3 separate regions of the Homo sapiens genome follow, and regions 1 and 2 are each linked to region 3. The links come from fine-mapping of genetic effects on gene expression. A gene starts in region 3. Each other region holds a variant in brackets. All regions are shown on one strand. Distances are from middle to middle.

Evidence for each region. PIP is the estimated chance that this variant, and not a neighbour inherited with it, causes the effect.
Region 1: its variant is the best candidate, but not a certain one, in a credible set for the expression of ZNF124 in whole blood (TOPMed, PIP 0.56).
Region 2: its variant is the best candidate, but not a certain one, in a credible set for the expression of ZNF124 in minor salivary gland (GTEx, PIP 0.83).

What each region holds. Positions count from the first base shown.
Region 1 is chr1:247,132,690-247,143,906 of GRCh38, reverse strand. It overlaps a transcript of ZNF124 not described here. Among named protein-coding and RNA genes, the nearest start is that of LINC02897, 26 kb to the right of the region's middle. The variant G/A (reference allele first, on the strand shown) is at 4,841.
Region 2 is chr1:247,118,234-247,126,749 of GRCh38, reverse strand. It overlaps the pseudogene FGFR3P6 and a transcript of ZNF124 not described here. Among named protein-coding and RNA genes, the nearest start is that of LINC02897, 10 kb to the right of the region's middle. The variant A/G (reference allele first, on the strand shown) is at 2,783.
Region 3 is chr1:247,167,115-247,178,331 of GRCh38, reverse strand. ZNF124 (zinc finger protein 124) reads left to right here and starts at 6,312. Exons shown (of 4, transcript NM_001297568.2): 1 at 6,312-6,484. The coding sequence starts at 6,455. RefSeq lists a silencer at 2,551-2,845.

The DNA of each region.
Region 1 (11,217 bases), 34 kb after region 3:
CGGGGGTAGATGATGGAGAACTGTTACTTTTTTTTCTGAGAGACTTAGTATCTCATGGCTGAGCTTAAGCTGGATCTATGGAGCACTGATCCCATTGTCTACTTCTGTGAGCTAGTGCTCCTCCATCTAGTTTCTACCATCTAGAGACGAATCTTATCAATACTTGGGTAAACCAAAGACATAAGTCAGGTAAGGGAATCCTAGACATAGCCCGACTCTTGCCTTTTTCCTCTTCTCACTTTAAATCTTGTTGGCTCAGAGAGTTACCCTCAGATGGAGTCTCTCAGGAGTAATTAGAACATTGTACTTCTAGAGAAGCTGGTGGAACAGGGTAGGGTTCCCAGTTCAAAGCTTCTGTCAAAAACTTCCAGTCTGTGTGTAGTAAATAAATCTAGAAACGATCCTAGAGCTCTGGATGGATCATTAAGAGAGGGCAGGATTTCTGTAGATCAGAATACCAGGACACATGTTCATCCGTCACCTTCCGGGGTCAAATTCTCGGTTAAGCCTGTGTGGTAGGGCTGTAGAGCAGTGTGTGCCTGGGAAAGCCTCTGATCACACATTTCCTCAGGGATTTTTTAGGCCTGATGTCCCTTTGAATTTACTTTAACAATCCTTTTGTAATTTTATTTTTTACATCAATTGTAACTTAGTATTATTATATATATAGGCATTTGGGTGTGTCTTGAAGGCATGTCCTGGTTTCAAACTGATTTGTGGTATATTATTGAATTAGGCCCATTTACTGGAATTATAAACTGCTATCCAACTACACAAAGAGCTGAGGATTCTGGGGAGGTCAGGATGGAGATGAAATAGAAGTGAGGAGAAAATAGCTCTCTCTCTCACATGCAGATTCTTTATGGATAAAATGCATAATTACCTAAAATTTAAAATACTCAAAAAATTATCTAATCAGTATGTAATGGAAATTATAGAGCAAAGAACAAAACAAACACCAAAATAATTTTCTTTTTTCTACATAAAAATTAAATAATTTACATAATGAAATATTCCATGATCCCAGTGTAAAATGCCAATAGAATATATGTAAAAAAAAAAAAAGACAATACCTGTATTAGATTTAAAATCTTCTACAATACATAAGATGAATTGAAATTTTTAGAGTAGAAGAAAGTTTAAAATTAGGTAAATGATATGAGCCAGGTGAAGAATAGGATCATTAAGCATTTAATATACCTTGTCTTAGATTCTGTGTAAGAAAATGAAAAGTAAAAACAATGGCATGGTGATTTCATCAAACTGAAAAAATAGAAGCATTTCTCCAGAGAGAATGCTATTAAAGGTTGGTGAATATCAATCTTCTGAGGACTCGGCCTGGGAGAGTGAAGAGCTACAGCCTTTTCTGAGTTCAAGTGGGGAAGATATAAATATATATTCATTTTGCTACTCTTTTTAATATACAAACATATATGAATGATTACACCCTAATAATATTTTCTGATTTACAGAAATGCATGACTGTCATAAGACAGCCAAAAGACATCAGATGTCTTATATGAAATACAAAATTTGTCAGTAATCAGCCTTAAAGAAAACTGGGTTTACCATTTTCAGTATATTGTTCAAATTCCTTTTCTACAACCACCACAGGTTCTGTTATTAACATGGTGTGTCTAAAGTTGTCACTGCTGGTCATCCAGAAGAATCTGAGAAGCAGCAAGTCTTTGTTTTCACTCCCAGACCTGTTTTCTTTGCTGAATAGGGTCAGGAGACCCCCAGGTCAAGCTTCATCTCATCTATAGATAGGCTGAGTTACCTTTGGTCCAAAAAAGGGCTGGTCCTATCTTTCTCCCAGAAGGAGCTCTGGACTTCTCCAGCCAGGGCTGGACCCTGGCACAAGTCAGGGTGGCTGAGATTCCCAGCCCTCAGCAGGGAACCCAGGCCACCTGGGAGTCCATGGTGTAGAAGTTCTGCACTGCAGCACAGAGGCCCCCAGAGCTGGCAAGCTAAGAGAGCTGCTCCCAGGTCAGCAGAGAATGGACCTACTGTGCTTGTGTCTGAACTAGGTCTTGATAAATGGCCTCAGACTTACCATAGAGGTCACCAGGCTTTTCAGAACTGGCAGCAGGTGGTCTCCTGGGGACTGAGATATGGGCTGCTTGCTGCACCCAGTGCGGACCCTTGGGGATCCACTATGGCAGGCATCACAGGTCTTCTCAGTTTTGCTGCTGTAGGGCCCCCAGCTCATGAACACAGAACAGTCACCTCTCCCATGGCTGAGCATACCCACCAGTAGTGGCCCAGAGTTTCCCCATGGAGAGGCTCCCAGAGGCATATGACAGCCCCTCTGCCATTGCCACAGTAATAGTTCTATCCCTGCTGCCTTTGGTCTGGGGAAGAAACAAAGAACCTGAGAGCTACACCCAAGCTTAACAGCATACCACCACAGCCACCATACCGAGAGACTAGTCTTTTCTCCCTGTGAGCCTTCATCCCATTGCTCCCCAACAAGCAGAACCCCAAGCTTATGCCAGCAGTGCAGGTGCCCCACCCACCAGCTGAACACCCCCAGTAACTATGGTTCTGCATTTCTTGGAGGTGGAGCCCCCAGGAGCAAACAAAAGCCTTGCTACCGCTGTCTGCAGTGGAACTGCCCTTGCTATCCTCAGACAAATGAATGAACAAATACCATAAGTGCCTTATCCACACCTACAACAAACTGCAGTTGACCCAAGGAGAGGAGACCAGTTCATCTCCCACAGGTTCCACCCACTCCCCCTGCTTGTCACCAGATAGGAAACCCTGGGCTTGGTCCCACAGCACAGACCCTCCGTTCTGGGCTGATTGCACTTAGCAATTGCTAACCGGCTCCTCTTGGGTGGAGCCCCCAGGAGACAAGCAAAAGACCTTTGGCCACAACCACTATTAAGGTCCCTTCCTCTGCTGCCTCCAAGCCAGGGGAGGAACATAAGCCCTGAGAGTGCCCCAGAGCTGTGGTGGGCAGCCCAAGAGTGCCAAGCCACAATTTATAGCCAGCATTCAAGTGGGAGAGAAGCCCACACTTTCAGAACATTGAGAGGGAGCATGACTGCAACTGTCAGAAAATATAGGGGAGCCACATGACCAAGCAAGAGCCTACCAACTAACCAGTATGCCTAAGCACCACCTACTGGATCACATCCCGAAGTTCCAACACCAAAAACACCTTGCTAGCATTCCCCTCTGTGAGACCAAAGACAAGTCAGCTACAAATGAAGACCCTGCACAAAGCCTTGGCTCTGCGAAGACATCCAGAAAAAAAAGTGTACTGACTGTACTCAATCTACACTGCAGTTACAGGAACACCCACCTGCAGACATGAGAAAGAACCAATGAAAGAACTCCAGTAACTCAAATGGCCAGAGTGTTGTATGTCCTCCAGATGACCACACCAGTTTTTCAACAAGGGTTCTTACTCAGGCTGAGCTGGCTGGAATGACAAATGGAATTTAGAATATGGATAGGAATTAAGATCATCAAGATTCAGGAAAATGCAAAACCCAATCCAAAAAAACTAAGAATCACTGGAGCTGAAAGACAAGATAACTGATATAAAAAAGAGCCTGATGGTTCTGACAGAGCAGAAAAACACACTACAAGAATTTCATAATGCAGTCACAAGTATTAACAGCAGAATAGACCAAGTGGAGGAAAGACTCTCAGAACATGAAGACTGGCTCTCTGAAATAAGACAGTCAGAAAAATTAAAAAGAATAAAAAATAACAAAACTTCTGAGCAATATGGTATTTTGTAAAGTGGCCAAATCTATGAATTATTGGCATCCCTGAAAGGGATGGGAAGAAAGCAAACAAGTTGGAAAACATTCTAGGATATCATCCACGAAAACTTCCCCAACCTTGGTAGAGAGGCCAGCAGTCACATTCAGGGAAACCAGAGAACCCCTGCAAGATTCTACACAATAAAATCATCCCCAAGACACACAATAATCAGATTTTCCATGGTCAAAATAAAAGAAAGACTGTTAAAGGCAGCTATACAGGGCAGGTCACCTACAAAGGTCACCCCATCAGGCTAACAGCAGACCTCTCAGCTGAAACCCTATAAGCCAGAAAAGACTCAGGGCCTATATTCAACATTCTTAAAGAAAAAAATCTTCAACCAAGAATTTCATACCCAGCCAAACTAAGCTTCCTAAGTGAAAGGGAAATAAGATCCTTTTCAGACAAGCAAATGCTGAGGGAGTTCATTACCACCAGACCTGCCTTATGAGAGATCTTGAAAGGAGCACTAAATATAGAAAGAAAAATCTGCTACCAGCCAATACAAAAACACACTTAAATACACAGATCAGTGACACTATAAAGCAACCACACAAACAAGTCAGCATAATAACCAGCTAACAACATGACAGGATCAAATCCACACATATTAATACTAATCTTGAATGTAAACAGGCTAAATGCCCTGCTTAAAAGGCGCACAATGGCAAGCTCCATAAGAAGGCAAGACCTGATGGTATGTTGCCTTCAAGAGACCCATGCAGTGACCTAGGATCAAAATAAAGAGATGGAGAAAAATCTGCCAAGCAAATGGAAAACAGAAAAGCAGGGGTTACAATCCTAGTTTCTGACAAAACAGATTTAAACCAATAAAGATTTAAAACAACAAGGGTATTACATAGTGGTGTGAACCGTGAAAATTTGAGATGGGTCTCAGTAATTTAGAAAGTTTATTTTGCTAAGGTTGAGGACACGCATCCATGACACAACCCCAGGAGGTCCTGACAACATGTGCCCAGGGTGATCGGAGCACAGCTTGGTTTTACACATTTTAGGGAGACATGAGACATCAATTAACATATGTAAGATGAACATC[G/A]GTTCAGTCCAGAAAGGCAGGACAACTCAAAGCAAAAGCAGGACAACTTGAAGTCGGGAGGGAGCTTTCAGGTCATCGGTAGATAAGAGACAATGGTTGCATTCTTTTGAGTTTCTGACTAGCCTCTCCAAAATGAGGCAGTCAGATATGCATTGATCTCAGTGAGCAGAGGGTTAACTTTGAGTAGAACGGAAGGCAGGTTTGCCCTAAGCAGTTCCCAGCTTGACATTTCCAGTTATTTGTTACTGTCAATCATGTTCACACTCAGCTTTAAACAATTTGCCAATTACACTTTCAATTTTCCTACAGATGTACTGGTTCATGAAGATGTGCTTATGGGTTTCTACTCTAGTAAGTTTTGGGTCTATGTATGTACCTTTCTTTCTCTGCACTCTTGGGGCAAGGAATTGCCATGTGATTGATCGGAGAATTGTTCATTTTAAATTAGTCCAGAATTTTTATGTTTTATTTCTTCTAAAACAAACGAAAACGGGATACGTGTAGAACATGTGAGTTTGTTACATGGGTATACATGTGCCGCGGTGGTTTGCTGCACCTATTGACCTGTCCTCTAAGTTCCCTCCCCTCACCCCCCAACCCCCAACAGCCCCTGGTGTGTGTTGTTCCCCCTCTGTTTCCATGTGTTCTCAATGTTCAGCTCTCACTTATGAGTGAGAACGTGCAGTGTTTAGTTTTCTGTTCCTGTGTTTGCTGAGGATGATGACTTCCAGCTTCATCCATGTCCCTGCAAAGCACATGATCTCATTCCTTTTTATGTCTACATAGTGTTCTATGGTATATATATACACATATATATATACACCACATTTTCTTTATCCAGTCTATCATTGATGGGCATTTGGGTTGGTTCCATGTCTTTGCTGTTGTAAATAATGTTGCAATAAACATACGTGTGCACGTGTCTTTATAGTAGAATGATTTATATTCCTTTGGGTATATACCCAGTAATGGGATTGCTGAGTCAAATGGTATTTCTGGTTCTAGATCCTTGAAGAATCGCCACACTGTCTTCCACAATGGTTGAACTAATTTACATTCCCACCAACAGTGTAAAAGCGTTCCTATTTCCCCACAGCCTCACCAACATCTATTGTTTCCTGACTTTTTAATAATCACCATTCTGACTGGCATGAGATGGTATCTCATTGTTTTGATTTGCATTTCTCTGATGATCAGTGATGTTGAGCTTTTGTTCATGTGTTTGTTAGATGCATAAATGTCTTCTTTTGAGAAGTGTCTATTCATATCCCTTGCCCACTTTTTGATGAGTTTTTTGTTTTTTCTTGTAAATATATTTAAGTTCCTTGTAAATTCTGGATATTAGACCTTTGTCAGATGGATAGATTCCAGAAATTTTCTCCCATTTTGTAGGTTGCCTGTTCACTCTGAGGACAGTTTCTTTTGCTGTGCATAAGCTCTTTAGTTTAATTAGATCCAATTTGTCAGTTTTTGCTTTTGTTGCAATTGCTGTCGGCATTTTTGCCATGAAGTTGCCCACGCCTATGTCCTGAGTGATATTCCCTAGGTTTTCTTTCTTTTTTTTTTTTTTTTTTTTTTTGTATTTTTAGTAGAGACAGGGTTTCGCTATGTTGGCCAGGCTGATCTCGAATGCCTAACCTCATGATCCACCCACCTTGGCCTCCCAAACTGCTGGGATTACAGGCACGAGCCACTGCACCTGGCCTCCCTAGGTTTTCTCCTAGGGTTTTTATGGTTTTGGATTTTACATTTAAATCTTCAACCCATCTTGAGTTAATTTTGGTATAAGGAAGCAGTCCAGTTTCCATTTTCTGCATATGGCTGGCTAGTTTTCCTAGCACCATTTACTGAATCAGAGATCCTTTCTTCATTGCTTGTTTTTGTCAGGTTTGTCGAGGATCAGATGGTTTTAGATGTGTGGTGGTATTTCTGAGGTCTCTGTTCTGCTCCGTTGGTCTATATATCTGTTTTGGTACCAGTAGCATGCTATTTTGGCTGCTGTAGCCTTGTAGTATAGTTTGAAGTCAGGTAGCATGATGCCTCCAGCTTTGTTCTTTTTGCTTAGGATTGTCTTGGGTATATTGGGTCTTCTTTGACTCCATATAATTTTTTTTTTTTTTTGAGATGGGTCTGACTCTGTTGCCCAGGCTAGAGTGCGGTGGCATGATCTTGGCTTACTGCAACTTCCAACTCCTGGGATCAAGTGATTCTCTTGCCTCAGCCTCCCCAGCAGCAAGGATTATAGGTGCACACCACCACGCCTGGCTAATTTTTGTATTTTTAGTAGAGATGGAATTTCACCATGTTGGCCAAGCTGGTCTCAAGCTCCTGACCTCAAGTGATATACCCGCCTTGGCCTCCTAAAGTGCTGGGATTACAAGCATGAGCCACTGTGCCTGGCCAATTTCACATGAAATTTTAAATAGTTTTTGCTAATTCTGTGAAGAATGTCAATGGTAGTTTGATGGGAATAGCACTGAATCTGTAAATTACTTTGGGCAGTGTGGCCATTTTTGTGATACTGATTATTCCTATCCATGAAGATGGAATTTTTTCCATTTGTTTGTGTCCTCTCTTACTTCCTTGAGCAGTGGTTTGTAGTTCTCCTTGAAGAGGTCCTTTACATCCCTTGTTAGCTGTACTCCTAGGTATTTTATTCTCTTTGTAGTGATTGTGAATGGGAGTTCATTCATGATTTGACTCTCTGCTTGCCTATTGGTGTAACCAAATGCTTGTGATTTTTGCACAGGGATTTTGTATCCTGAGACTTTGCTGAAGTTGCTTATCAGTTCAAAACGTTTTGGGGCTGAGATGATGGGGTTTTTCAAATATAAAATTATGTCATCTACAAACAGACTTCCTCTCTTCCTATTTTAATACCCTTTTATTTCTCTTGCCTGATTGTCCTGGCCAGAACTTAGGAGTGGTGAGAGAGGTCATCCTTGTCTTATACCAGTTTCCAAAGGGAATACTTCCAGCTTTTGACTATTTAGTATGATATTGGCTGTGGGGTTGTCATAAATAGCTCTTATTATTTTGAGATATGTTCCATCAATACCTCGTTGATTGAGAGTTTTTAACATGAGAGGATGTTGAATTTTATTGAAGGCCTTTACTTCATATATTGAGAGAATCATGTGGTGTTTGTCTTTGGTTCTCTTTATCTGATGGATTATGTTTATTGATTTGCATGTTAAACCAGCCATGCATCCCAGTAATGAAGCTAACTTGATCGTGGTGAATAAGTTTTTTGATGTACTGCTGGATTCAGTTTGCCAGTATTTTCTTGAGGATTTTTGCATTGACGTTCATCAGGGTTATTGGCCTGAAGTCTTCTTTTTTTGTTGTGTCTCTGCCAGGTTTTGGTATCAGGATGATGCTAGCCTTATAAAACGAGTTAGGGAGGAGTCCTTCCTTTTCAATTGTTTGGAATAGTTTCAGAAGGAATGGTATCTGCTCCTCTTTGTATTTCTGGTAAAATTCTGCTGTGAATCCATCTGGTCCTGGGCTTTTTTTGATTGGTAGGCTATTAATTACTGCCTCAATTTCAGAGCTTGTTATTGGTCTACTTAGGGATGTGACGTCTTCCTGGGTTAGTCTTGGTAGGAGTCCAAGAATTTATCCATTTCTTCTAGATTTTCTAGTTTATTTGCATTGAGTGTTTATAGTATTCTCTGATGGTAGTTTTTATTTCTGTGGGGTCAGTGGTGATAACTCCCTTTATCATTTTTTATTGTATCTTTTTGATTCTTCTCTCTCTTATTAGTCTAGCTAGTGGTCTATTTTGTTAATTATTTCAAATAACCAGCTCCTGGGTTTGTTGATTTTTTTGGAGGGTTTTTTGTGTCTCTGTCTTCTTCAGTTCTTATCTTAGTTCTTTCTTGTCTTCTGCTAGCTTTTGGAATAGTTTGCTCTTGCTTCTAGCTTTCTGATGTAGGCATTTAGTACTATGATTTTTCCTCTTAACATTGTTTTAGCTGTGTCCCAGAGATTCTGGTACATTGTCTCTTTGTTCTCATTGGTTTCAAAGAACTTCTTGATTTCTGCTTTAATTTTATTATTTACCTAGCAGTCATTCAGGAGCAGGTTTTTTGATTTCCATGAAATCGTGTGGTTTGGAGTGAGTTTCTTAATCCTGAGTTCTAATTTGATTGCACTGTGGTCCGAGAGACTATTATGATTTCAGTTCATTTGCATTTGCTAAGAAGTGTCTTACTTCCAATTATGTGGTTGATTTGAGAATAAGTGCCATGTGGCACTGAGAAGAATGTATATTCTATTGATTTGTGGTAGAGAGTTCTTTAGACATCTACTAGGTCACTTGATCCAGAGCTGAGTTCAAGTCCTGGATATCCTTGCTAATTTTCTGTCTCATTGATCTAATACTGACAGTGGGGTGTTAAAATCTCATACTATTATTACACAGGAGTGTAATTCCCTTTGTAGGTCTGTAAGAACTTGTTTTATGCATCTGGGTGCTCCTGTATTGGGTGCATATATATTTAGAATAGTTAGCTCTTCCTGTTGAATAGTTCCCTTTACCATTATGCAGTGCCCTTTTTTGTCTTTTTTGATCTTTGTTGGTTTCAAGTCTGTTTTGTCAGAGACTAGGATTGCAATCCCTGCCTTTTTTTTGCTTTACATTTGCTTGGTAAATATTCCTTCATCCCTTTATATTGAACCTATGTGTGTCTTTGCACATAAGATAGGTCTCCTGAATACAGCACACTGATGAGTCTTGACTCGTTATCCAATTTGCCAGTCCAAGTCTTTTAATTGGGGCTTTTAGCCCATTTACATTTAAGGTTATTATTATTATGTGTGAATTTGATCCTGTTGTCGTGATGCTATTTTGTTATTTTGCCCATTAGTTGATGCAGTTTCTTCATAGTGTCATTGGTCTTTATATTTTGGTGTGTTTTTGCAGTGGCTGGTACCAGTTTTTTCTTTCCGTATTTAGTGCTTCTTTCAGGAGCTCTTGCAGCACGGGCCTGGTAGTAACGAAATCCTTCAGCATTTGTCTGGAAAGGATTTTATTTCTCCTTCACTTATGAAACTTAGTTTGGCTGAATATGAAATTCTGAGTTGAAAATTCTTTCCTTTAAGAATGTTGAGGCTGGGCGCCGTGGCTCATGCCTATAATCCCAGCACTTTAGGAGGCCGAGGTGGGTGGGTCACCTGAGGTCAGGAGTTTGAGGCCAGCCTGACTAACATGATGAAACCCTGTCTCTACTAAACACAAAAAACTTGCCGGGCATGGTGGTGCATGCCTGTAATCCCCGCTACTTGGGAGGCTGAGGTGGGAGAATCGCTTGAACCTGGGAGGTGGAGGTTGCAGTGAGCTGAGATCGCACCACTGCACCCCAGCCTGGGTGACAGAGTGAGACTCCATCTCAAAAAAAAAAAAAAAAAAGAATATTGAATATTGATTGAATATTGGCTCCCTATCTCTTCTGGCTTGTAGTTTCTGCTGAGATGTCTACCGTTAGTCTGATGGGCTTCCCTTTGTAGGTGACCTGGCCATTCTATCTGGCTGCCCTTAACAGTATTTCCTTCATTTTGACCTTGGAGAATTTGCTGATTATGTGTCTTGGGGTTGTTCTTCTTGAGGAGTATCTTAATGGTGTTCTCTGTATTTCCTGAATTTGCATGTTGGCCTGTCTTGCTAGGTTGGGGAAGTTCTCCTGGCTAATATCCTGAAGTGTGTTTTCCAGTTTGTTTCCATTCTCCCTGTCTCCTGCTGGTACTCCAGTCAATCATAAGTTCAGTCTTTTTATGAAGTCCCTTATTCCTTGGAGGCTTTGTTAATTCTTTTTCATTTTTTTTTCTCTCTTCTTGTCTGCATGTCTTATTTCAGTAAGGCAGTCTTCATCTTTTCTGAATGTCTTATTTCAGTAAGGTGGTCTTCACACTCTGATATCCTTTCTTCCACTTGGTCAATTCAGCTGTTGATACTTGTGTGTGCTTCATGAAGTTCTCATGCTGTGTTTTTCAGGTCCACCAGGTCATTTGTGTTCTTCTCTAAACTGGTTATTCTAGTTAGCAATTCCTTTTGTAGCAGGAGGAGCCACAGACAAAACTCCTCAGACACCGGGTTAAAGAGGGAAGGAGCTTTATTCAGCTGGGAACTTCAGCAGACTTGCGTCTCAAAAGCCAAGCTCCCTGAGTGAGCAATTCCGTCCCTTTTAAGGGCTCACAACTCTAAGGGGGTCTGCGTGAGAAGGTCGTGATTGATTGAGCAAGCAGGGGGTATGTGACTGGGGGCTGCATGCACTGGTAATCAGAACGGAACAGAACAGGACAGGGATTTTCACAGTGCTTTTCTATGCAATGTCTAGAATCTATAGATAACACAACCGGTTAGGTCAGGGGTCGAT
Region 2 (8,516 bases), 50 kb after region 3:
GCCCAGCTCTGCCGGGCGCCAGAAAGGACCGAGGGCCGCGCCGCGCCGCGCCAGCAGGGACCCGGGTCCGCCCTCGGGAGCCGACCGCTGGGAGCCCGGGGCCCGGGGCCGCCACAGCCCCTTCCCTTCTCCAGACCCCCGGCGGCGCAACTCACCATTTCCCAGCTTCCGGGGTGTCCCGACATCCTCCCTGCGAATCCCCCAGTACATGCAGGTCACAGGAGGGCCCCGGCTGCGGCAGAGCCTCCTGAACCGCCGAGAGTGAAGGAGAAGCGCAGGGCTACTGACCGAGACACGCACGTGCGGGCACGAGAGACAAAGGCCGGGCACACCCGGAAGCCGCCTCGGGTTTTCTAGCGGAGCGCCGGATTAGGCAGTCCCCGCCCCGGTGCCCCTGATTGGGTAGGGCCTCAGGCCCCGCCCCCTCAGACTCTTAGTGACAGGTGACAGCTCCCGCGCGTGTCTGAATGAGGCAGCGTTCTGGCTACAGCTCTTCTCCAAGAGGGTTTCCTCTCTGGGTTGGGACCCAGCCTTGCCTAGGGGACATTCATTTATATACACTTAACCTTGTATACAATGTTACATTCATTTGTGAATAATATATATGATATTTAAAATAGGGTACAATATAATAATAATTTTTGTATCTTTAGTAGAGACGGGTTTCACCATGTTGGTCAGGCTGGTCTCGAACTTCTGACCTCATGATCCGCCCACCTCAGCCTCCCAAAGTGCTGGAATTATAGGTGTGAGCCACTGTGCCTGGACTATTACATTTTCTAGAATTTTATATGAATACAATTGTACAATATTTACTTTTTTTCCCCAGTGAAAATAGCTTTTATTCAAATGTCCTTACTTTTATCTGGATTATTTTACTTGGACTAATTAATATGAGATCCAGCCACATTGCTGCATGTAGTTTAAATGGGTGAATTCTATGCTGTTTGAATCCTCTCTCAATAAAGTTGTTACCAAAAACTCAATGAGATACCACTGCATTCCCAGTAGGATGACTAAAATGAAATAAATAAACAGATGGCTGGGTGCGGTGGCGCCTTTAATCGGCGCCGGCGCCGATCACGAGGTCAGGAGTTGGAGACCAGCCTGGCGAATGTGGTGAAACCCCGTCTCTACTAAAAATGCAAAATTTAGCCGGGTGTGATGGCAGACGCCTGTAATCCCAGCTACTCAGGATGCTGAGGCAGGAGAATCCCTTGAAACGGGAAGGCAGAGGTTGCAGTCAGTGGAGATCTCCAGCCTGGGCGAAAGAGGAAACTCTGCCTCAAAAAAAAAAAAAAAAAAAAAAAAAAAAAAAAGACAAAAACAGGTGTCGGTGAAGATACGGAGAAATTGGAACCCTCACACCCTGCTGGTGGGATTGCATAATGGCGCAGCCACTCTGGAAAACAGTCTGGCAACCCCTCTAAAATTCAAACATAGAGGTACCATTTGACCCAAAAACTCCACCCCCAGGTACAGATACACAAGAGAAATTAAAACATCCACAAAAAAGCTAGTACACAAATGTTCACAGCAGCAGCATTCGTAACAGCCAATGTGTGAAAAAGTCTCCAGTGTCCGTCAGAGGATAAAATGTGGTCTATCCTTGCAATGAAATCTTATTCACCCATAAGAAGGAATGAAGGCCGGGCGCTGTGGCTCATGCCTGTAATCCCAGCACTTTGGGAGGCGTAGGCAGGTGGATCACTTGAGCCCAGGAGTTGCCAGCCTGGGAAACATGATGAGAGCTCGTCTGTACTAAAAATGCAAAAAAATAAAAAAATAGCCGGGCATGGCGGTGTGTGCCTGTAGTCCCAGCTATTGGGAGGCTGAGGTGGGAGGATCACCTGAGCCTGGGGAGGTCGAGGATGCAGTAAGCCATGATCACACCACTGCACTGCAGCCTGGGTGACAGAGCGAGACCCTGTCTCTAAAACAAAAGGAATGAAATGCTGATACATACTACAACATGAATGAACCTTGAAAGTATTTGGCTAAGTAAAAGAAGCCACATACACACACACACAAACCCCACATATTGCGTGATTTTATTTTTATATGAAATGTCCAGAATTGGCAAATAGAGACAGAAAGTAGATTAGTAGATTAGACAGAAAGTTGCATAGGCTGGGGGGAAAGGAGTTGGCTGCTACAGGATGCAGAATTTCTTTATGGGGTGATCATCTCAAATTGACTGTGATGATGGTTGGGCAACTCTGTGGATGTACTAAAAGCCACAGAATCAGAGCCGGGCGTGGTGGCTCACGCCTGTAATCCCAGCACTTTGGGAAGCCGCGGCGGGTAGATCACAAGGTCAGGAGTTTAAGACCATCCTGGCCAACATGGTGAAACGCTGTCTCTACTAAAAATACAAAATTAGCCACATGTGGTGGCCTGCACCTGTAATCCCAGCTACGCAGGAGACTTAGGCAGGAGAATCGCTTGAACCTGGGAGGTGGAGGTTGCAGTGAGCCAAGATCACACCTTTGCACTCCAGCCTGGGCGACAGAGCGAGACTCTGTCTCAAAAAAAAAAAAAGCCACAAAATCATTCATTTTAAATGGCTAAATTTTACGTGTGTGATCCCAATAAAGCTATTAACAAAAAATGGCTCACGTAGGCCGGGCGCAGTGGCTCACGCCTGTAATCCCAGCACTTTGGGAGGCCGAGGCGGGCGGATCATGAGGTCAGGAGATCAAGACCATCCTGGCTAACACGGTGAAACCCCGTCTCTACTAAAAATACAAAAAATTAGCCGGGCGTGGTGGCGGGTGCCTGT[A/G]GTCCCAGCTAAAAGCACATCACAAAGGGCATAAATACAGGAAGGGATGAAGAGTTGCTGCCATTTTTGCAATCAGTATCATGCCTTTTCTTGCAGATGAGGTTTATATAACTTTCCAAGACAAGGAAGTTGTGCAAAGCCTCACAGCTACTAAGAGGCTGGGCTGGGACTCAGGATTAACTTCGTGACTCCAAAGCCCATGCACCTCTGCAAGCCACACGAATCAAGCAGCTTCTCTAAACCTTTGAAGTCCTGGAAAGTAACTCTTCTGCAATAGAAGCAAGAATCCTGTGAGATTGGGATCCATCTAGTACTCTTCACCATTTGGAACAACTGCCTCCAGAGAATGCTTCTGACGCATCTTGGAAGAACTTGGAATAACCTGAGGAAATGGTCGATTTGCTAATTTAGGAAACCAATGTTCGATACGTGTGTGATCCCAATAAAGCTATTAACAAAAAACGGCTCACGTAGGCCGGGCGCAGTGGCTCACGCCTGTAATCCCAGCACTTTGGGAGGCCGAGGCGGGCAGATCACAAGGTCAGGAGATCGAGACCATCCTGGCTAACACGGTGAAACCCCATCTCTACTAAAAATACAAAAAGTAGCCGGGCGTGGTGGTGGATGCCTGCGGTCCCAGCTACTCAGGAGGCTGAGGCAGGAGAATGGCATGAACCCGGGAGGCGGAGATTGCAGTGAGCCGAGATCGCGCCACTGTACTCCAGCCTGCGTGACAGAGCGAGACTCCGTCTCAGAAAAAAAAAAAAAGAACATAATATGTGTATTGTGTCTCATGTACACTGTTGAAGAGGTAGCAGCCCATGATTGATGAAATAGTCCAGTGATCTTATGAGATACAAGTTTGTTTTCATGTTCTCTCTCTGACATTGTCTATGCTTAGTTATTGTGTTCATGCTTATTCCTTCATGGTCCAAGTTGGCTGTCCCACCTCCAGGCATCAAACCACATTCCAAACAGCAACCAGGAGGAAATAGTAAGCTGATAGGTCATGGGGAATTAGGTTGGAAGCCATTGCTTTTTAATTTACAGAAGTCCATTCTCCCCAGGCACTTCTTTCTAAGTCTCATTGATCAGAACTCAACCACGTGGCCACCATCAGCAGAAACATCTCTCTGTAGCACCGTGAAACACATGAGAACATAACTGGGGATGACCGTTGTTACTTGAACTATTTTGAAAGATCTGACATAAAGGTCATCGCCTTGTGCACTTCAATGGGTGTTACTGCAAAACTCCCAGGGCTAGGCATGGCGACATACACCCGAAATCTCAGCTATCTGGGAGGCTGAGGTGGGAGGATTGCTTGAGCCCACGAGTTTGAGGCTGAAGTGTGCCTGTGAATAGCTACTGCACTCCAGTGCCTAGGACACATAGGGAGACCTCACTTTTTTATGGCTGCATAGTATTCCATGGTAAAGAAATGTACCACATTTTCTTTATCCACTTCACTGTTGATGGGCATTTATCCACTTCACTGTTGGTGGGAATTTAGGTTGAATCCATGTCTTTGCTATTGAAGTCACACTTTTTAATCAAGTTATTTAACTTTCCTGTGTTCATTTGTGTTATATACCAGAACATTTTTATTTCTATGGTTTTAATGCCACCTAATATGATTATCAATGTGTCATTCTCCATAAATCATTGTGTTATACATGTTAAACGATTAGGTATTAAGTGTATAGGTATAAATCACTTAGAATAATGACTAACACATTGTATGAACTAAATAAGTACTGATTCATCTGATTCATCAAATTTCCATTATTCATACCATTCATTATTTATTAAGTGGTGTAGTATTTGTTCTTATCAACATTTGCTTTTCTGTCCTATCTAAATATTAATGAAACAGTGGATGTGGGCTCAGTGTGCTGTCTTGAAATAATCCAAAGTCAAATGGCATGCTTCACTGGTTTCCTTTAGATGCAATAACTCATTTGACTCACACAATAAAAATGAGTATTAAGTATATCAGCTATCCTTATATTTGTCATGCTACAACAGAGAAAACTCTGGGTCACTGGGCACCGTGGCTCACGCCTGTAATCCCAGCACTTTGGGAGGCCAAGGCAGGTGGATTGCCTGAGCTCAGGAGTTCAAGACTAGCCTGGGCAACATGGTGAAACCCCGTCTCTACTAAAGTACAAAAAATTAGCCGGGTATGGCAGCAGGCACCTGTAGTCCCAGCTACTCGGGAGGCTGAGGGAGGAGAATTGCTAGAACCTGGGAGGCGGAGGTTACAGTGAGCCAAGATCATGCCACTGCACTCCAGACTGGATGACAGAGCAAGATTTTGTCTCTTAAAAAGAAAAGAAAAGAAAACTCTTGGTCATTCACTGATGACACCAAAGCCCTACCCTCATAAATCTTCCATGTCGACTGCCCAGAAAACCTAAAAACGTGGAAACTATGGAATACTACAAACGCAGAATAAATATTTCATTAGGAACAAATTATCAAGGTAAACCCGAGATGAAATAGGATAAATACACATATAGTAAAAAGATTTAATTAATTTAAAAATATACAAAGTTGCAGAGAGAAAAGCAAATGTTTTTGAACCAATTATGAGAGACAGTCACAGGAGTGATTCCCACTTTTATGAATTGACACATTCTTTAGGAGAAACCACATCTAATTTTGGACTTTGGTTCATAGCAGGTTCTATATGAACCAACAAGTTCATATCCTGGAGAACTACTCAGTGCACAGGATTTTGTTTCCTGCTGGTACCTTTTTTTTCTGAGACAGTGTCTCTGTCTCCGAGGCTGGAGTGCAATGGCACCATCTGGGCTCACTGAAGTCTCGACTTCCCGGGTTCAAGAAGGAAAATTGCTCCCACCTCAGCCTCCTGAGTAGCTGGGACTACAGGTGCATGCCGCCACCACACCCAGCTCATTTTTCTTTTTTTTTTGAGACGGAGTCTCGCTCTGTCGCCCAGGCTGGAGTGCAGTGGCGCGATCTTGGCTCACTGCAAACTCTGCCTCCTGGGTTCATGCCATTCTCCTGCCTCAGCCTCCCGAGTAGCTGGGACTACAGCTGCCCGCCACCACGCCTGGCTAATTTTTTTTTTTTTTTTTTTTTTTTTTTTAGTAGAGATGGGGTTTCACCATGTTAGCCAGGATGATCTCAATCTCCTGACCTCTTGATCCGCCCACCTCGGCCTCCCAAAGTGCTGGGATTGTTGTATTTTTTGTAGAGATGGGGTTTCACTGCGTTTCCCAGGCTGGTCTCAAAGTCCTGGACTCAAATGATCCTCCCGCTTCGGCCTTCCAACATAATTTTGTCTTTCATAGGTTACTCCAAAAATTCTATAATGCTAGTAGATTTCAATGAAATCTACCCGTGAAGTGAAGACTTCAGTGAAGCGAGGCCTCCAGCCTGCCCATTCCCCTGTACCCAGCCAATGGTGGTGCCCACCTTGAGAACAGTGAGGTAGGGCGTGCTGTCCACCCTGTGCCCAGCCAATGGTGGTGCCCACCTTGAGAACAGTGAGGTAGGGCGTGCTGTCCACCCTGCACCCAGCCAGGGGTGGTGCCCACCTTGAGAACACTGAGGTACGGTGTGCTGTCCACCCTGTGCCCAGCCAATGGTGGTGCCCACCTTGAGAACAGTGAGGTAGGGCGTGCTGTCCACCCTGTACCCAGCCAACGGTGGTGCCCACCTTGAGAACAGTGAGGTACGGTGTGCTGTCCAGGCCCGCCTTGCTGACATTCACCTCCGTGTGCTAAGGTGCTGTACACCTGCCATGGAGCTGCACCTCGCTGCCTAGCAGAAGGCGCTGGTGAGGAGAACACATTGAGAGGGCCCAGCTGGGCTTAGGGCTACCTCACTTCATGCTCCCTGCCTGAAGGCCACAGCCCACACACAGCCTGTCCAGCATGTAAGTTTGCTGGATGCTGCTGAGCTTGTTCTTCATGACATGTGTGGAAAACAGCAGTCTGAACGCACCGCCCTCTTCATAACCAGACTCTACTGCCGGTGCCTCGGCTCCAAGTGGAAGGGCGAGAGAGGATGGCAGCCATGCCCCCACCACCCTCCAGGCCCACCTCGATGCTCGCGTGTGATGCTTTCCACAGAACTTCTTCTGGCTCTTCAGCCAGATGGAGGGAGTAGAGTTGCCCATGGTCAGGCATCAGAAGCAAATGGTGTTGGTGTCTGGCACCACAAGCTGGTTCCTGTCCACCCGCTGGAGCTGAGTCCAGTGGGGTCCCTGCTGGCAGAGTGCACAGGAAGGCCATAGCCAAGGTGGGGAGCAGAGGCCCGTCTGACCCGACGCCCTTCCAACCTTGCCCTCGCCTGCAATCTCGGTTTTTCCTCCTGTGTAGGGAGTGTTGGCCTTTTAAAGACCCCTGCTGAAGTAGACGAGGCTCCCAGGAGCCCCGACGTCATGTTCCCCCATCTCAGGCTTTCTCAGAGCTGGGCCATGTGTCCCCTCCCTGTCTGCTTCCTCCAGCTGGCAGCTCCTGCTGAGAGGTCCAGCGTGCTCCACCTTGGCCTTGAGACCTTCAGGTCATAAGGGCATCTGCCAGCGGAGTACCCACCTGCCCAGGGAAGCACACTGAGGCAGGCCCACCAGGAGAAGGCCCAGGACCCAGCTGGGTGCATGAACCGGCACAGGCCTTGGGAACAGTTTACCAGAAGGGGAAATCCGGCTGCCTGGAGAACTGGGAGCTTCAGAGATGGCTGGGCAGCGATGGCCCACTAGAATCTGCGCCCCTAGGCCTCCCTCTGTAGAGCTCCAGGGCTTGGTGGGTACCGGGTGAGGATGGCATCCAGGAGGCCCCGTCTCTGCCCCCTTCTGGTGTCCAGGGCTGCTGCAGCCTCTACCCTCAGCCCAACGGTTTTCTCCTTCCTAAGGACTGGTTTGGGGGCGGCCTTCCTGCCAAGACTCTTGGAAATGCTGAACTGTCATCCCCCAGGAGGGGGCACCAGGGGACCAGGAGGAAGATAAGCCCTCCCCGTGATGACCTTGCTGTCACCCGCCCACAGGGACACGCCCCCTCCCCGTGATGACCTTGCTGTCACCCGCCCACAGGGACACGCCCCCTCCCCGTGATGACCTTGCTGTCACCCCCCCACAGGGACACGCCCCCTCCCCGTGATGACCTTGCTGTCACCCCCCCACAGGGACACGCCCCCTCCCCGTGATGACCTTGCTGTCACCCCCCCACAGGGACACGCCCCCTCCCCGTGATGACCTTGCTGTCACCCGCCCACAGGGACACGCCCCCTCCCCGTGATGACCTTGCTGTCACCCCCCCACAGGGACACGCCCCCTCCCCGTGATGACCTTGCTGTCACCCGCCCACAGGGACACGCCCCCTCCCCGTGATGACCTTGCTGTCACCCCCCCACAGGGACACGCCCCCTCCCCGTGATGACCTTGCTGTCACCCCCCCACAGGGACACGCCCCCTCCCCGTGATGACCTTGCTGTCACCCGCCCACAGGGACACGCCCCCTCCCCGTGATGACCTTGCTGTCACCCCCCCACAGGGACACGCCCCCTCCCCGTGATGACCTTGCTGTCACCCCCCCACAGGGACACGCCCCCTCCCCGTGATGACCTTGCTGTCACCCCCCCACAGGGACACGCCCCCTCCCCGTGATGACCTTGCTGTCACCCCCCCACAGGGACACGCCCCCTCCCCGTGATGACCTTGCTGTCACCCCCCCACAGGGACACGCCCCCTCCCCGTGATGACCTT
Region 3 (11,217 bases):
GAACACACTTCCAGAACCAAACAACTGACAGTTCCATGAACACGCACCTTAACCCTCAGCACAACTTGGTTTTGCTGTCATGATAAAACCAGGAAAAGAGCCAGGATATCGTTGATTTAAAGGCTTAATGGTCTCTCTTTTGGGGATTATAGCTCCAGTAAAAGAATACTTGGATGTGGACTATTAATATATGTGCAATTATTTATAAACTACATGTCCATATAAATTTGTTAATAAAACACATGGAAGCCATATAACAGAAAGAGATAAAATAGGAAATCTGATGTTTTATTCTCTTAAGATATATTTAGTTCACCCCATGTATTTCACACCCTTCTCTCTACAAATAACAATCACATGCTGAAAAATACTTTATCTGCTGAATCATCAGATGGAGTCTCTCTCTAACAAGTCTCTTGAGGTCATTGGTGTTGAGACTGCACAAGGAAGGATCACAATACTGTGGATTAGAATTGACAGCTAAAGTATATTATTTTCATTATTCCTTTTGGAAATTTATCTCTCAGAATCTAACTACTGATCATTGACAAAGACATATTTGTGCACTCAAAAGTCATTTGTCGTTTATTTAAATTTTAAAGTTAATTTTCTGTCCTATTTTTTACTTGATGAATCTGGCAACTTCACTATGAATCACAGGATTTACAATAATATGGTACTGACCTGGGAGAAACAATATAGAAGAACATAATCAGAGAGCTTATCTGTAGGTGGGTCAGAGTGCAAAGGACTATTGGGTCCTACCTGATACATTAAAAACTGATCAATCTAAATGCACATCTCAGCCCTCACTGTGAGAAGTGACAGCCATGGGTGGCTGGGGCTGAGGGTGAAGCTCCCGAGCCCTCTCAGGAAACAGATAATGCAGATCAAGTTCATCCTTATGTTGGCTTTCACCTCGGACTATTCTAAATATTGTAAGTCCCAGGTATTTACATAATTATGAATAATGATGGGAAAAATTTACCATTGAATGAACAAGAAACGAAAGACTGATTATAAAGTCTTGAGCTTAATCGACACCTCTGAAGAAAAGAGGAGTGTACTAGAATGAAAAACCATTTACACAAATCCACAAGCAATTTTACATGCAATTAATGTGTTCTTTGAAAAAAAAGTATCCCGTGTTTTGTTTTATTAATAAAAATGTCATTGTTATTATACACAAGTAACAGCCAGCATTTTAAAACCTATGACTGGTCATTGATAACATAAAATGATCATGAGAATTTCATGTTAAAAGTCAAAGAGGAGATGGCTAATGCATGCTGGGCTTAATACCTAGGTGATGGGTTGATAGGTGCGTGGGCCCAGACTCCCCTTTTCTCTGTGATTGGAGTGGATGCCAAGAGTGAGGAGAAGCCAGACAGTGGGAGCGAGCACTTCCAAGCCTGTGGGGGTGGGGGAACCTTCCTGAGCCCTCCAGAGTGCAGAGATGCCTGGGTCTGCAGCCATGGCGGCTGTGCCCAGGAGGATGGGCCTCCTGCCTGCTCCAGCTCCCAAGAGCACAGGGATGCCCAGCTCACCTATGGGTCAACCCCCAAGAACATTTATAATTTCTCTAGAATGGCATAACCCTTCCAAAAGCTGACGGGGACCTTGGGAATCTTCTTCCAGAGGGTCCTGGGTCAGGGATATTGGCCTGGCTGTGAGACAGACAACCTCCTACCCTCCCTGTGCCTCCTGGGCCAAGACGTGGAAGCCTCATCAGGATGCACTGCCACTGGCAACAGGCCAAGAACGGGGTCTGCTTGGGGGGCGCAGGTGGTTCGGGGGTCCCAGGAGAATTGAGAACTTCCTGCAGACAAGATGCCTCTTTTTCCTCATTTTTGGTCCAACTGATACACTGGATAGTGAGATAAACCTTACATTTTAATTTTTATGTATTTTTTCATTATATGCAAAATGTATACTTAAACAGACAGTGGATTTGAAGGGAAAAGTATTTGAGATTCATTCTTTCAAGTGTCATTTAGTCCTATATACATAGGTTTATATATATTATATATATAGTGTATATATATAGCATATATAGTAATGTATATATGTAGTGTATAGTATATATGTAGTGTATATATACTATATATGTGTATATATAGTATATATGTATATATGCATACATATGTATATAGTATACATGCATACATATGTATATAGTATAGATACATATATAAATATATATGCTATATGCTATATATAGGACTATATATATATACACATACACACACGCGTATATATATAGTCCTATATACATAGTCCTATATACAGATTTGCCCTATGTGTAACAACTACGTAGATAAAAAAGTTATGAAATTGTTTTTGGTTTTACAATGCTATATTAAAAACATTGAAATTCACCAATTGAACAATCTATGCAAGGGTATTATGGTTTTTTGTTATTGTTGTTTAAGTCCTGAAATACAGAGATAAGAGCTGAGTGAGCAGCCACTGGTGGAGAAACAGTCTTCACGGGGCCAGTATTTTTCTGCCCCGTCTCATTTGGCTGCGGATCAACACATGTCATTTAGTACAAACAAGCAAACAAAAATAGCAATATGCTTGTGTGCCTACCCCAGATGCTTTATGTGCAATAATGAAATGAGGAAGGGGAAGATAAGAGAATGGAGAAAAGGATACTGTACCAGCCAGAATGTGGAGTCAGAATGTGGTGTCAGAATGTGGAGTCAGAATGTGATGAAATCACATTGTGGGTTTCTACATGAGAATGTCTGCTGGAGTTGTAGGAAGAGGTCCTGGGTAAAGGAGCAGGTGTGTTCTTAGAAGGCCCTCCTGTCTGCTGCTGGAACACATCACCTGTTTATTCGTCCTCCATTTCCCGCTTTGCAGGTGTGTCAGTTTCACTGAGTGACCGTCCGTAAAATCCAAATCTGATTTGCTTCATGGCCAAACCCTGCCATTCACCATAGGCTTCCACTCCTTCATTCAGTGATGTGTACTTCTTCCCCTTCAACTGCGCCCCAGAACCATCCTACCCTCCACCTTCAAATTCACAGAATTGTTGTTCTGTCTTGACTCAAACTTTTTTCCTGCCACAGCAGAGCACTGAAAGTCTCTTAAGTTACAGCTTCACAACAGAAGTCTAAAGTCTGCGCAGAACTAGCACATCTGCAGCCGTAGGAGCAGCAGAATGACCAGGCAGCAGAGCTTTATTCCATGTTTTCATCTCCATTCCTACAACAGCAGCGGCAGCAGCAACAACTGCTACTACTTCTAATTGTGGTAAAAATACTTAGAATAATAATGCATAATGACAATTGTAGTTGACATTTTTGGTTTATATATGATTATTTGTAATGTTCTACAATTTACCTTTAGTAATATACACATAACTTTTGCATAAACATCAGGACCCTAAAACACCACACCTGATGATTGAATCTCACCTATGGACCTAAGGTCTTCACATGCTGGTGCAGGCCCTCTCACCACTCCATCTCCAAACAGAGGATATGGTCCACCTTCTGAGTCAATATAGTAGCCCTGACACTCACATGATCTATTTGAGGTCTTGGAAAACAAGCTTGCCTTGTTAAAAATCAAAGGATGGGCCGGGCACGGTGGCTCACGCCTGTAATCCCAGCACTTTGGGAGGCCGAGGCGGGCTGATCACGAGGTCAGGAGATGGAGACCATCCTGACTAACACGATGAAACCCCATCTCTACTAAAAATACAAAAAAATTAGCCGGGCATGGTGGCCGGCGCCTGTAGTCCCAGCTACTCGGGAGGCTGAGGCAGGAGAATGGCGTGAACCCGGGAGGCGGAGCTTGCAGTGAGCCGAGATCACACCACTGCACTCCAGCCTGGATGACACAGCGAGACTCCATCTTAAAAAAAAAAAAAAAAAAAAAAATCAAAGAATGGCTTCAAATTGTAGTCAGCTGTTTCGTTAAATTGCAGCAGGAAGAAATTTTTCTCAGCAGGTCTATTTTCATGTCACTTGCTTTCAGAGTAAGAGGTTATTTCAGACACAGTGGTTTGATTTAGTCTTTGTTGAAAATCATAAATAGCCTACAAACAACAAAAAGGGATGAATAGGATTTGCGTTCATGTGGAGTGCGTCATCTGTGCTTTTAAATTTATCCTATGAAAAGAAATAAAAAATATGTAATATCGAACATTGGTTTCCTAAATTAGCAAATCGACCATTTCCTCAAGTTATTCCACGTTCTTCCAAGATGTGTCAGAAGCATTCTCTGGAGGCAGTTGTTCCAAATGGTGAAGAGTACTAGATGGATCCCAATCTCACAGGATTCTTGCTTCTATTGCAGAAGAGTTACTTTCCAGGACTTCAAAGGTTTAGAGAAGCTGCTTGATTCGTGTGGCTTGCAGAGGTGCATGGGCTTTGGAGTCACGAAAAGTTAATCCTGGTCCCAGCCCAGCCTCTTAGTAGCTGTGAGGCTTTGCACAACTTCCTTGTCTTGGAAAGTTATATAAACCTCATCTGCAAGAAAAGGCATGATACTGATTGCAAAAATGGCAGCAACTCTTCATCCCTTCCTGTATTTATGCCCTTTGTGATGTGCTTTTATAGCTGCTTTCATTGAGAGGCAGAATCTGTTTCCCAAACCTTGAATCTCACTGGCCTTATTTGCTCTGGCAGTAGAAAGCTGTGAATATGACCATGTGCCAGTTTGGGGCCGAGGCACAAAAGCTCTTGAATGCTTCTGCTTTTTATTTCACAACCCTGTCATCTCCATAATAACAAGTCCATGTTAGCCTGCTAGAGGATGAGATACTATAGGGAGGAAAACCAAAGTGCCACAGTTGACAGGCAGCTCACCCTCAGAAGCAGCATTGCCTAGTCAACCAGCAGCTGACCACACGTGCCTGAAAGGGCCCAGCAGAGACCAGAAGAATGGCTCACTTGAGCCCAGCCTAGAAGGTGGACCAGCTCAATCTAATACGTTTTGGGGAATTTTACTGTGAAGCAATAGGTAATACGTACACCTAGTGCAGACAGGATGCCAGGATTCAATGACATGTTGATTGCAATTTACCAGGCAAACACAAGGCACCCTGTATGTACTGATTTCCTTTTCCCTTTATGTAAAGTTGGATTTCTGGTTAGACGGTGTTGAGCCATACAGAAGTGCACGTAGACATGCATGTGATTTGTGCTTAAACTCACACACTTAAATTCCACACCACAGGAGGAAACAGAAAACCACAGCCTGACCATTAGGGCCAAAGCCAAATTGCAAAATGAGAAGTTTGTCTTTAATGTATTCCCTCTACATCTAAAGTCCTGAGGTTAAGGCTGTGGACAAATCTGAAGACATGGGTTTTCTTCTCCTGGGGCCCCTCATCTTTTTTTCACTGTCTTATCTATAGAAGAGGCTGGGCCCCTGGCAAGAGCAGGTGGGAAATAGTAGACTCCCTCTAGATACTTCTTTATTGCAGCCCACTTCTCTCTCTGGGCACTGTCTCTGCCACCCTTGGGCCTGAGGAGAGATGTTAGCAGAAGGAGGGCATTCCCTCACCTCTAGCAGAAAAGAGGGGTTCGGGCCCTTCACTCCCTGAGGTCAGGGGAACCAGAGCCCTCAAAACTGCACTTCAGTGTGACAGTCATTGCCCACAGGGGTCTACTTAGCACCTAGAATGTGGCTGGTCTGAATCGGTACATGCTGGAAGTTTAAAACGCAGAGTGACTTTGAAAGATTTAGTACCAAAAAACAGAACAACAAAAAATACTTCATTAATATTATATTTATCATATATTTAAATTATAATATTTTGTATATATTGAGTTAAATAAAGTATTGCAATCAATTTTACCTGTTTATTCCTCGTTTCTGTTGCTACTAGAAATTTTAAAATGACACCTGTGGCTCACATGTGATTTCTGTGGAAATCGCAGCCTTGGAGGATTGCTTCCCTTTTCAAAACTCGGGCTCCTCAGACTGCTTCCTCAGAAGACCAGAGGCCATGAAGGTTAATAAGTCTGAAATTTTAAAAGAATTATTATTATATTGTTTCCTATTTTAAATATCATATATATTATTCACAAATGAATGTAACATTGTATACAAGGTTAAGTGTATATAAATGAATGTCCCCTAGGCAAGGCTGGGTCCCAACCCAGAGAGGAAACCCTCTTGGAGAAGAGCTGTAGCCAGAACGCTGCCTCATTCAGACACGCGCGGGAGCTGTCACCTGTCACTAAGAGTCTGAGGGGGCGGGGCCTGAGGCCCTACCCAATCAGGGGCACCGGGGCGGGGACTGCCTAATCCGGCGCTCCGCTAGAAAACCCGAGGCGGCTTCCGGGTGTGCCCGGCCTTTGTCTCTCGTGCCCGCACGTGCGTGTCTCGGTCAGTAGCCCTGCGCTTCTCCTTCACTCTCGGCGGTTCAGGAGGCTCTGCCGCAGCCGGGGCCCTCCTGTGACCTGCATGTACTGGGGGATTCGCAGGGAGGATGTCGGGACACCCCGGAAGCTGGGAAATGGTGAGTTGCGCCGCCGGGGGTCTGGAGAAGGGAAGGGGCTGTGGCGGCCCCGGGCCCCGGGCTCCCAGCGGTCGGCTCCCGAGGGCGGACCCGGGTCCCTGCTGGCGCGGCGCGGCGCGGCCCTCGGTCCTTTCTGGCGCCCGGCAGAGCTGGGCGGGCAGCGGCACCCCGGGCTCCGGTCCCGTCTCTGCACCGCGACTTCCGTCCTGCCCGAAGCAGCTTCCCTCCCCGGCCCGCGCCCGCAGCCCCGCGGCTCCTCGGGATCCTGCAGTGAGACCCGAGGCGCCTCAGGGGAGAGGCCCAGCGCGGTGTGCGGGCTCGCGCCTGCGAGGAGCTGTGGCCACTGGCGTTTCCAGTCCCTCCTTAATCCTGTTAAAAATTAAACTGAGGTTTAATTAAAGCGTTACAGAGTTTGAGCAAACAGCGATTCATGAGTAGGGGAGCACCCAGCCACGGTTTTTGGTTTGTGGGCCACCGGACGGTCTTGATGGAAAGGCTTCTGTAAAGTGTGTAAGGAAACAAACCAAATTTATTTATTTTTTATTTTAATGATCGGGTGGGGCGGGGGGGGGGTCTCCCTGTGTTGCCCAGGCTGGTCTTGAACTTCTGGTCTCAACCTCCCGAAGTGCTGGGATTACCCCGCCCAGCCCAAAGCAACCCCAATTTAATAACTGATTGGTTATAATTATGTAGTTCTGTTATTCGGATTATTTAGGTGGATGGTTCCTGGTTATGTAATCAGAGGTAAATTGCTGATTTGGGGTTAAGTTTTCTTTCCCTTCAAGTTAATTACAAGAAAGGCATGAAGTACCTTTAGGTTTTCTTGGTGAGGAACTCAGGGCACCATCATCACTTAAGGGAGGAGACCACCCCTCATATTGTCTTATGCCCAATTTCTGCCTCCAAAGAAAGAAGAAGTAAAAACTAAAAGGCAGAAATGAAATCCACAGGCAGACAGCCCGGCGCCGCGTCCTGGGCCTGGTTACAGATTGACCCTTGACCTGACCGGTTGTGTTATCTATAGATTCCAGACATTGTATGGAAAAGCACTGTGAAAATCCCTGTCCTGTTCTGTTCCGTTCTGATTGCCGGTGCATGCAGCCCCCAGTTATGTACCCCCTGCTTGGTCAATCGATCACGACCCTCTCACGTGGACCCCCTTAGAGTTGTAAGCCCTTAAAAGGGACAGGAATTGCTCACTTGGGGAGCTGGGTTTTTGGAGACGTGAGTCTTGCCAAAGCTTCCGGCAGAATGAAGCCCTTCCTTCTTTAACTCGGTGTCTGAGGGGTTTTGTCTGCAGCTTGCCCTGCTACAACTTCAGTCTAATTTCTTCCTATTTAATTATTTCCACAAGGGTACTGGTTTCCCCTGCATTTCCCAAATGTAAGGCAAGCAGGGTCTCAAATCCATGACCGTATTCCCCAGCCTAACTTCTAGAACTTGCAGTAAAATTCTAAATTTCCAGTTTCTTCCTCATACTCTCAAACTCCAACTTCACCTCTCCAATTTACAACATTATTAATTATTTGTTCTTTATTGTGCATTTGAACCAGATGCAGTAATGTAATTGTTTATCATGTTTTCACTGAGCAGTGAGGAGCTGTTTCTGAACATTCCTTGTGAAAACAGAGAATAATCACCTGATCTAGTCCACTATAAAAAATTCTTTGTACCTCTCCTCCTTTTGTCTTCCCTAGGCACACTCACAAACGTCTTTGGATGGAGGTTTCCCTTTGGAACCTTCACGTGGTGTTGTGTCCTCAGCCACCCTCCTGTCTTTTCTGGGTCCTGGGTTCAAAACTGTTTGAGGATGACCTAATGTGCCCACACTGGCCCTGTCTCTTGGAGTGTCATAAATAGTGAATGTCAGCTGTTGGGTCCTCTTCTCCCAGAAGACAAGGTGAGGTTTAGGGGTGGAGCCTCTCAGAGGAGCAGCTGGATGGCATGAATCCCCTGGGACCGAGAGGAGTCTCCTGGGATACTCTTCTATACTCTTCCTCTAAAAAGCTAATCCACTAGGACTTAGATTTTTTTTTCTTCTCTTACCCCCGTTATCACTCCTTAGAGACAAAATGCTGGTCAGGCAGTCGGATACTGGTATTGAGGGAAGAAAGAATTTCTGCCCTCTGGATTGTCTCATGCTTGTGAAGGGAGAACAGCTATTCCAAAGTACAAGGAAACCCCGCCCCGCAGTGAGGCAGGAACCTGAAAAGCAAAATGCATTTGGGGCACAGTGGGGACACGGCACAGGTTTCTGGGGGAGGGTGGGCATTGAGTACTTCCCTGAGCAGGATGGGGTGGGAGGACACAGTGGGGACACTGGGAGAGACACTGGTGTCATCCAATCCAATGCTGGTATTTTGAGGGAGAGACAGAAATGATTCCTGCCCTCTGGATTCTTTCACACTTGTGAAGGGAGAAAAACAACCTTAAAGAACAAGAAAATTTCTTCCCAGGAAGATGACACAAAAACCTGCCAAGCAAACTGCACCTTAGGCACACAGTGGGCCACAGTGCATTGCGCTGGGAGGTTGGTCCTTGAGTACGTGGTCTCTCCAATGAGGAGACCGGGGACCAGGGAATCTCCTGCTTGAGAGATGGTCTTACTTGACATGTGAGTCAAACATATCTGTGTTCCAGTTAGCGCTGCTCCTCCCTGGGCTGTCCTCTTGCAAAGCTTTGTTCATTTATTGGTGCCTTAGGTAAACATAAAATGTATTTCATCAATAGAGCTTTAAAGATAAAATATTTACAAAGAGGCAAAGAAAGAAGTGGATATTTTAAATATATGTAGATATTTTAAATCCACTTTATATATATATTTAGTTTTTTAATTAAAAAAATTTTTAATGTTATATCAATACATTTGGGGTAGCAGGTGGTTTTTGGTTACAAGGATAAGCTCTCTAGTGGTGATTGCTGAGATTTTGGTCCTGTCACCTTATCAGTGTACGCTGTACCCAATATGCAGTCTCACCCCCTCCCACCCTTGCCCCCAAATCACCAAGGTCCATTATATCATTCTTATGCCTTTGTAACCTCATAGCTTAGCTCCCACTTATAAGTGAGAACATAGAATATTTGGTTTTCCATTCCTGAGTTACTTCACTTAGAATAATGCCTCCATTTCCATCCAAGTTGCTGCAAAGCCCATTATTTCATTCCTTTTTATGGCTGAGTAGTATTCCACCACATTTTCTTTATCCCCTCATTGGTTGATGGGCATTTTAGGTTTGTTTCATATTTTTGCAGTGGCAAATTGTGCTACTGTTAACATGCGTGTGCAAGTGTTTTTGTTTGTTTGTTTTTTAATTGAGACAGAGTCTCACTCTGTTACCCAGGCTGTAGTGCAGTGGCACGATCTTGGCTCACTACAACCTTCCGTCGCCTGGGTTCAAGGGATTCTCATGCCTTAGCCTCCCAAGTAGCTGGGACTACAGGCATGCACCATCACGCCCAGCTAAATTTTTTTTGTATTTTTAGTAGAGACAGGGTTTTGCCATGTTGGCCAGGCTGGTATCGAACTCCTGATGTCAGGTTATCCACCTGCCTCAGCCTCCCAAAGTGCTGGGATTGCAGGCATGAGCCACCACGCCCAGCCGTGTTTTTTTCATATAATGACTTCTTTTCCTTTGGGTACATACCCAGTAGTGGCATTGCTGGATTGAATGGTAGTTCTACTTTTAGTTCTTTAAGGAATCTTCATACTGTTTTCCATGGCGGTTGTACTAGTTGACACTCCCATCAGCAGTGTAGAAGTGTTCCCTGTTCACCACATCCACACCAGCATCCCAGCATCTATTGTTTTTTATTTTATGATTATGGCCATTCTTACAGGAGTAAGGTGGTATCTCATTATGGTTTTAATTTGCATTTCCCTGATAGTGATGTTGAGCATTTTTTCATATTTATTGGCTATTTGTATATCTTCTTTTGAGAACTATTCATGTCCTTTGCCTACTTTTTTGATGGAATTTTTTCTTGCTGATTTGAGTTTTTTGTGAATTCTGGATATTAGTCCTTTGTAGGATGCATAGTTGGTGAAGATTTTCTCCCACTCTGTGGGTTGTCTGTTTACTCTGCTGATTATTTCTTTTGTTGTGCAGAAGCTTTTTAATTTAATTAGGTGCCATTTGTTCATTTTTGTTTTTGTGCATTTGCTTTTGGGTTCTTGGTCATGAGTTCTTTGCCCAAGCCAATGTTTAGAAGAGTTTTTTTGATATATTTTATTTTCATTCCCCTGAGTGTATGTGGTAACTTTTTGAGGTCTCGTCTCTTCTTTTGGGTAGTTTCAAATGAAATTCTAGGGCTTTTAATCAGGAATGCTACCAGGGAAGAGAAATAGGAAAAATCTCTCTTCCTTTATGATTACAGAAAGTGAATACATTTCCACACACAAAAGTGTGGTACATAAATTGGTGAATTACAAAAATTAACCAAAACATCAGTTTGTTTCCTGCAGGATGAAGAATTTGTTAGAGTGGGTAAGTCTGTGCTGTTTTCTGTTGCCTGCATTTGGCACATTAATGCTAAATCTGTACAGCAACCTTGCCCGATCACTGTGGCCAGGATTTCCAATACTGTGTTGAATGGGAGTGATAAAAGCAGAGGTTCTCTACCGCTCTTTCCTGATCTTGGGAGAAAAGGGTTTTTTTGCTTGTTTGTTTTGGTATTTCAGCATTGATGGTGATGTTAGTGCTGGTTTTTCATACTGTAGTTTCCTTGTAGTCCTA